Homo sapiens: one gene and its partner. The protein of the gene in region 1 purifies or fractionates together with the protein of each later gene. This does not show direct contact. Each region holds a gene or a part of one and is shown on either strand. Other genes may lie near its edges.

What was found. The genes of interacting proteins can lie anywhere in the genome.
Region 2: the proteins of PPM1E (region 1) and SLFN11 purify together in Homo sapiens (affinity purification with mass spectrometry; one large-scale study listed by BioGRID and IntAct). This does not show direct contact.

The regions. Positions count from the first base shown.
Region 1 is NC_000017.11:58,754,589-58,758,706, forward strand, and holds the start of PPM1E (protein phosphatase 1E), read left to right. Parts: upstream 1-1,265; 5' UTR 1,266-1,409; coding exon 1,410-1,873; intron 1,874-4,118. UniProt on the Homo sapiens protein: Protein phosphatase that inactivates multifunctional CaM kinases such as CAMK4 and CAMK2. Dephosphorylates and inactivates PAK. May play a role in the inhibition of actin fiber stress breakdown and in morphological changes driven by TNK2/CDC42.
Region 2 is NC_000017.11:35,349,742-35,353,332, forward strand, and holds the end of SLFN11 (schlafen family member 11), read right to left. Parts: intron 3,399-3,591; coding exon 2,615-3,398; 3' UTR 564-2,614; downstream 1-563. UniProt on the Homo sapiens protein: Inhibitor of DNA replication that promotes cell death in response to DNA damage. Acts as a guardian of the genome by killing cells with defective replication.

The DNA.
Region 1 (4,118 bases):
AATCCATTGAAGTGGGTGAATCCAGTGAAAAGACCTGGATTGAGTCCTTGTTGCATCCCTTGCATGTGACCTTGAGCAAAGTCACCATGTCTTTAAGGCTGTTTTCTCACCTATAAAATGGAATAATTGGCCGGCGTGGTGGGTCACACCTGTAATCCCAGCACTTTGGGAGGCTGAGGCAGGCAGATCACCTGAGGTCAGGAGTTTGAGACCAGCCTGGCCAATATGGTGAAACCCCGTCTCTACTAAAAATACAAAAGTTAGCCGGGGGTGGTGGCAGGCCCCTGTAATCCCAGCTACTTGGGAGGCTGACGCAGGAGAATCACTTGAACCCGAGAGGCGGAGGTTGCAGTGAGCTGAGATCGCGCCACTGCACTCCAGCCTGGGTGACAAGAGCGAGATTGTCTCAAAAAAAAAAAAATCATAACGGTAACGTCCTATACCTCAAGGGACTGTGGTAAGAATTAAAAGGGTGAAATCAATGTGTAAACTATGAAGCCCAATAGAAATAAGGTGTTATACAGACAATTGCACTATTGAATCTCCGGAGACAGAGTTGAGTTAAGGAAAAATGCACTTTCGGAAAGCTTTGGCGACTGAACGACCTGAGTTCTCCAACGCCAAGGCTGGAAGTTTGGAGACCTTGAAACAAGTAAATTACCATTAATATCATAATTTTCAGTTTCCTTTTAAGAAATGAGAGTAACACCACTTTCTTCACAGAATCAAGTGAGAGAGAACCTATGCAAAGGAACTTATCACTTGGTAGGTATTTGAAGCTCCCTCTGCCTGAAAACTACTTATTCAAAGACTGCAACAAAAGGTGTTCACAGTGTGGTATCTTTCAAAACATACGCTAAGGCAAGGAACAGATAAGGAAATGGAAGTACATCCAATTGGGATCCAAGCAACCCAAGTGGGAACCAACAGCTAGACTTGGAGATGTCTTAGCTCACTCTTAACCACGTGAGGGTAGGGTATCCAACCAATAAAGACATTCAGAGTTGGAGAGCGGGCGAGTGGAGTGTCCTTTAGACTCCGCGGACTCGACGGGAGGGACCCTGCAATGCTTAATTAGAACCGGTTGCCATGGCGACAGTCTCTAGGCAGCGTGGGCTGAGCTCTCCGTAGGAATAAAGGGTGGGCCGCCGCTGGACCCTGCGCGCGCCCGCCACCAACTTTCCCTCCAGATCCGAGAGGGGCGGCGCGCTCCGCCCCCGGGCCGCGCACGTCGGTGCTCGGCGGCGCGCACGCCTGCGGGAGCCCTCTCCAGGCAACCTAGTGCTGATCGCTCGTGCCGGTGCGGCCGTTAACCGCCCTTGCCGGAGCCCTAGGCTCAAAAGCAGCCCCTTACCCTTCCTGGGCTTCCCCCAACCCCTTTCCCGGTCTGCCCTGGGGCATGAGCAGCGATGGCCGGCTGCATCCCTGAGGAGAAAACTTACCGGCGCTTCCTGGAGCTATTCCTGGGCGAGTTTCGCGGACCGTGCGGCGGCGGCGAGCCGGAGCCGGAACCCGAACCCGAACCCGAACCCGAACCCGAGTCCGAGCCCGAGCCCGAACCTGAACTGGTAGAAGCTGAGGCGGCCGAGGCTTCGGTAGAGGAACCCGGGGAGGAGGCGGCCACGGTAGCCGCGACGGAGGAGGGGGACCAGGAGCAAGACCCGGAGCCCGAGGAGGAGGCGGCGGTTGAGGGTGAGGAGGAGGAGGAGGGCGCGGCGACGGCGGCGGCAGCCCCGGGGCACTCGGCCGTGCCGCCGCCGCCGCCCCAGCTGCCGCCTTTGCCCCCGCTCCCGCGACCGCTGTCAGAGCGCATCACCCGCGAGGAGGTGGAGGGCGAAAGCCTGGACCTGTGCCTGCAGCAGCTCTACAAATAGTTAAGTAGCTGGGCTTGGCTGGTGGTGGGCCCGCGGTCCCCACCGCGCCGGCCTCGGACGCGGCTCCCTCGGCCCCTCAAACTGCTCTCTTTTCTGCTCCTCTCCCCCGCACCCGCGCCTGCCGCCGCTGAAAGCGCCCCCGCTGCTCGGACCCGGGCGGTCGGCTGAGAGCTGCCCACGCCCGCCTCGGCCCCCACGCCCGCCTCGGCCCCCACGCCTCCTACCCGGCCTTGAAGCCGCTCTCCTGAGCCCCGGCGCCCTCCCGCCGGGCCCGGGCCCCTCATCCCCTTTCACCTCGGCCCCCAGCTTCTAGCTCCACTTCACGCAACCTTTCCCTTTCCTGCCTGGAAAGGTCCTTCCTCCCAGGCTTGAGCTCCCTCTTCTTCCCAGATCCCTTCTTTCTCCGGGAGGTTTCCTCCCACCCCAGTCTGTCTTTTCCCGGGCTGAGTGCCTTGTTGTTTGGCGGCAGAGACGCGACTCCTTTCTAGACTGAGCTGCGAGGTGCCTCCTGCGTAACTGCAACAATGATGGTTATACCGGCCCCGTATCCAGATGAGAGAATGGAGTAGATTTTCCGTCAGGTGCTCAGTGTTGAAAGTGAAGGGCTTTTTAGATGTTTTCACACAGGGAAGCCTAGTCTCTTAGTTTAGACATTTGACATTCCATAATTGAGGGAAGTGGGAAGGAATTGAGAGGGAAGGGTAAGCAAAATTTTGCAAGCAAGCCTTCGGGTGAAAGAGCCATAATTCATTAAAGTGGAAAAGTCAGGCTGTTTTGATTAAATTGCAATTAGGTGCAGTATTTTCAGTCCATTAAGTAGATGGGATGGGGTGGGGAGAAAGCAGATGGCTTAGCTACACAGATGAAAGTCTAAAATAGAAAGGTCAAGGCTTTGCCTTTCATCCCAGTTCTGGTTTTTATAGGCCTGAAATAGAAACGGTTTACAATTGCGTTTCTCAATGGAATTGTTCCGAAATAATGACAGAGGAGAATACTAGTAAGTCTCTGAAAACATTGGTAAACCTGGGAAGTCTTTTGCCATTCAGCTGATAGTTGTAATGAAAGGTGTTACTCTGGCCACCCAAAAAGTTTACTACTGCAAGATTCGCTGTAATTAAGTTCAAACTCACTTTTGGGATTTTCTCAAAAGCCTAAAGAAAAGAAGGGCCTGGAAAGTAAACCTGTTTTGTCTTCATCCAAGCTAATAGACACCTGATCAGATCATTCTCCTGTTAAAGCAGCAGTTTATCAATAGGGGAAAATCATTTAACAAATCTTCCATAGAAGTGGACTGTGTTGGTATTTCATAATATAAGCTATCTAAAATTTAATTTTAAAATACTGTTCAATTACAGTATTACCGTCAATTAGCAAGGTAATGATGCTTTTTGAGAAACGTAAAATATAAAATGGCGTGTAATACCACCACCCAGAGATAAACAGTATTAACATTTTAGAGTATATCTGGTCTTTGTGAACTATCATAGACAAGGGCTTCTGAGATGTAATTTTTTACAGTATTTAAAGATAAAGCTCCCTGCTTAAAATAAAATGGAAATGTTTATTAAGGGAATTTATCTTAGCAGCAGACTGGCTCTATCTTGACAGTTAATTCTTACCTTTACAAATGCAGTTTGCAGAATTAAACCAATTCAAACTTTAGAAAGTGTCCAAATAAGGTCATTATTTTAGTACAACCCTGAACATTTGCCATGTAAGAAGGTTTTTTTTTTTTAACTTATTTAAAGATGATGGCAAGAAGATGTGTGTTTTTTCATATAGAAGCGGCCAGGAGCGGTAGCTCACTCCCGTAATCCCAGCTCTTTGGGAGGCCGGGGTGGCAGATCATGAGGTCAGGAGTTCGAGACCAGCCTGACCAACGTGGTGAAACTGCGTCTCTACTAAAAATACAAAAATTAGCTGGGCGTGGTGTCGCGCGCCTGTAATCCCAGATACTCAGGAGGCTGAGGCAGGAGAATCGCTTGAACCCGAGAGGCAGAGGTTGCAGTGAGCTGAGATTGTGCCAGTGCACTCCAGCCTGGGTGACAGAGCAAGACTCCGTCTCAAAAAAAAAAAAAAAGATTAATTTTGATATAGGTATAAACTAGAAAAAACTGAAATGATAAAATGGCCATCTAGTTGAGAACAGAAGTTTGGATTTGAAATAAAACTAGCAAAATTAAAGTTGGAAAATATTTCCGCTTAAATCAGAGATTTCATCATTTATATTGTGTTTTGTACAGA
Region 2 (3,591 bases), about 23 Mb from region 1:
AGCAAGACCTTGTCAAAATAAAATAAAATAAAATAAAATAAAATAAAATAAAATAAAATAAAATAAAATAAAGAGGAAACTAAATGAAGGGGACACAGGAACTTTCTGTACTATCTTTGTAACTTTTTCTGTAATTCTATAACTACTCTAAAATAAAAAGTTAATTTAAAATATAAAAACATTTTGTTTCATTTTATAATGGCTGGGTAGATTTTCAGATCTTTAGTGAAGTAGGTCCCAGATGTCTAGAGGCAGATTGCAGAGATGGGCAGGCACCCATCCAAACCCAACTGAGTCTAGTGCACTGGCTCATGCCTATAATCCCAGCAATTTCGGAGGCTGAGGCAGGAGGATCACTTGAGCCCAGGAGTTCGAGGCTATAGTGAGCTATGATTGCACTACTGCATTCCAACCTGGGCAACATAGTGAGATCTTGTCTCTTAAAAAAAAAATTGAAAGTTAATGTTGCTTAATCTTTTACTGGCTCGTTTTGGCCCTCTCACAGAGTCACTGGCCTCAGTCTTCTCCTTTTCCCCCATTTAAGCACTTATTTTACAAGACCATTTTTTTCAGTTTAATGAGACACAAACTCTCAACTTTTTATTTAAAACAGAAATGCAGTAGTAAGCTAAACCTTTTGCCATTCATAGGGAAACAAATATCAGTAATCCTCTTTGTTCTAAACAAAAATTCATAATTATTTATACATTTTAAAATATTATATTGTTTCAAATATTGTTAGTGGGGCAATAAATCATAAAGAGATACAACCAGTCGAAATTAGACTTTTAAAGAATTACTCTCAAAGACATTGCAACAACTCCAAAGTCCAGGGATCTTATAAGACTAATTTATTAGTAACAACATTTACAAAGATAGCTTTTTAATGCTGAGTTGTATCTGATTTAATGCAGTCAGAAAGAAAAAAGAAACATTTATCTCATTTTGCTGATCTGTCAGATTTTGCTTAAGTTAGGAGAGCCTGCAATTTCAAGCCCAGATAACTGGAATTCCATGAATAAACACAGAAAGACAGGAGAAAGGCAAGGAAGTTCAAAAATCACAGTCTGGGGGGAAATCAGTAGAGTAAGATTACCAATAAGTGAAATATTGGTCATATGATTTCTTAGTTTCCATTAGTTATGCAAATATTTTACTGTTAATATTTAGATTAGTGTTTTAGAACGTTTTGTAGAGACTGAAAAGCAAATAAATAATTGCATTAGCATTGTTAAGTATCAGTGTTTTCTGTTTGACAAATAATCGTACAGCTGTGTTCTCAGGCTGCAATAACAAAACACCAGAGACTGAGAAGCTGAAACAACAGAAATTTGTTTCTCACAGTCTGGAGGCTGGAAGTCCAAGACAGAGTCCAAGACTCTCGCCAGCAGCGAGAGTTTGATTGTGAGGCTTCTCCTCTTGGCTTGTAGGTGGCTGCCATCTCTCTGTGTGCTCCCATGCCCTCTTGTTTGCATGCACAGGGAGGGAGGGAACAAGCTCTCTGGGGTCTCTCCCTATAAGGACACCAACCTTAGCAGATCAGAGCCCCACCATGACTTCATGTAACCTTAATTACTTCCTTAGCAGCCCCAGCTCCACAGTGCAGGTTGGGGCTTCAACACGGGAATTTGGGGGTGAAGGGTGGGACACAAACATTCAGTCCATAACAATGGCCCACCAAACCATGAAAGTAAATAGAAAAAAAATCACAGTTCAAGAATAACATAAAACTTAACTAGGTGTGTTATAGAGCAATGCATAGAACTAAGCTGAGAAGTTAAAACATAAACTCATTGATTTTTAAAGACAATCTTTCCCAAGTCTGGTTCACCTTAGGGCTGATACACACCTTCAGAACCAGATTTTGGTCTCTAATATCATCTTCCACTGAAAGCCAGGGCAAACAGGTTTATGTTCATTTCATCTTGGCCTATAATTTCTCCTTAAAGTGACCATTAATATTCACTATCACAATTAAGGCTTGGTCTGGGCCATTCTGAGAACAAGCTCTGGAGACCACAATTTTAAAGGATTAAATAATCATAACGGTATTCTTTGTCCTGACAAAATTATTAATCTGACAGTGACTGAATTATCTTCGGACTCTCCCAAGCCCTAAATGAATACAGCAAAGATAAATGTCAAGAATTCAGGAAACAATTGCTTCTGCTACGGCCAGTAAGCTCCTAACAGACCATGCTTCTGCAGAAAACGATTCTGGACAAATTTTTAAAAGCAACAAACTGCATGAAGTCACTTAAAAAAAGAAGCCCAGCCTTGGAAGAAAGAAAGGCCACAGGCTGAGTTTCTTATTTTTATGGCTTTTACCCAAAATGCAAGACACAGATCGGCATTGTGCAGGACAGCTAAAGTTCCTTTAGAAAACCACCATCTTTCTGGCTGGAAGAGTCAGGGGTCAGAATGGGGGGCAGCCACCGCTGCTGAAAGGGTTGGGGAAGGAACCCCTGAAAGGAGAGCCAGAAATGGGGGAGCTCCAAACTCTTTGTGTCAGCTCCGTCCAAATCTCTGACTTGTGAACTAAAAAGAAAGGTTTCTACCATCAGCAGACTGTCACCCATAGACATTTACATAGCATTTTGATTTGGAGTTCTTCCTAATGGCCACCCCACGGAAAAATATACAGGTGTTGTTTTGCCCTGGAAGCCAGACAGATCAGAACATTGGGTAAGATAGCTGGGTCAGCTGTCCTTGGATGGATCCCAAACACTATGCTCCTTTCCAGGCCTGAGAATCGCCGAACACTGTCCAACACAATGTGATCACCCAACATATCACATGCATCACTGAGCTGCACCACCCTTTTCTTCCTCATTGCTTTCAAGAGCTCATACTTATAGTGCTCCACTTCTTTTGCGGTGCTGACAAGCACAGCAACATCCTTTGGAGAATAGCCCCTATCAAAGAAGCGCCTGCACGTGTCTGCCACACAGGTCATTATTTGCTCCACAGTCAAGTATTTCTTAATTCGTAAGGTTCCCTGAACACCCTGGGACCATTCGGCTTCAGGAAATACCTCGAGGCACCCAGTGGGGATGTTAAATGAAGGATTACTTCTAATTACTTGCATTTCTTTTTGTAAGTACTTGGCTATTGGATCTGCATTGCGAACTATTCTGGTGAGCTCTTCTCTTGGATATTGGTCTGAGAGAGGAGGGAGGCCACTGCAATCCAAGTGGCTGGTCTGAAAGTAATCCAGAAAGATCCAGAGAATTCCTGGGCCACCCTTTGCTCTCCGAGTGATGCTTTTTGCCTTCCCATACCAGTCCCCATCTTCAGTACGGAAATTCTGAGCTTCGTCAATGACGATGTGTTGAATGTGTTCAAAGTTTTCTCTTAGGAAAGTTTTCCGGGTCTCTGCTCGGCAGATATTTCTATCACTGTAAAAATTAAAAGAACACACTCAGGTTTTCTCTAAAAAAACAAGGGGAGAAAATAATTGTATCATGTTCCTCCGAGCACAGTACATTACCACAGATCATTTTACCACTCAATTCTCAAGAAAGACGGTGACTTAGCAGAAAAAATTAAACCCAGATTAAATAATACTTAGAGACGTAAGATCCAACTGCT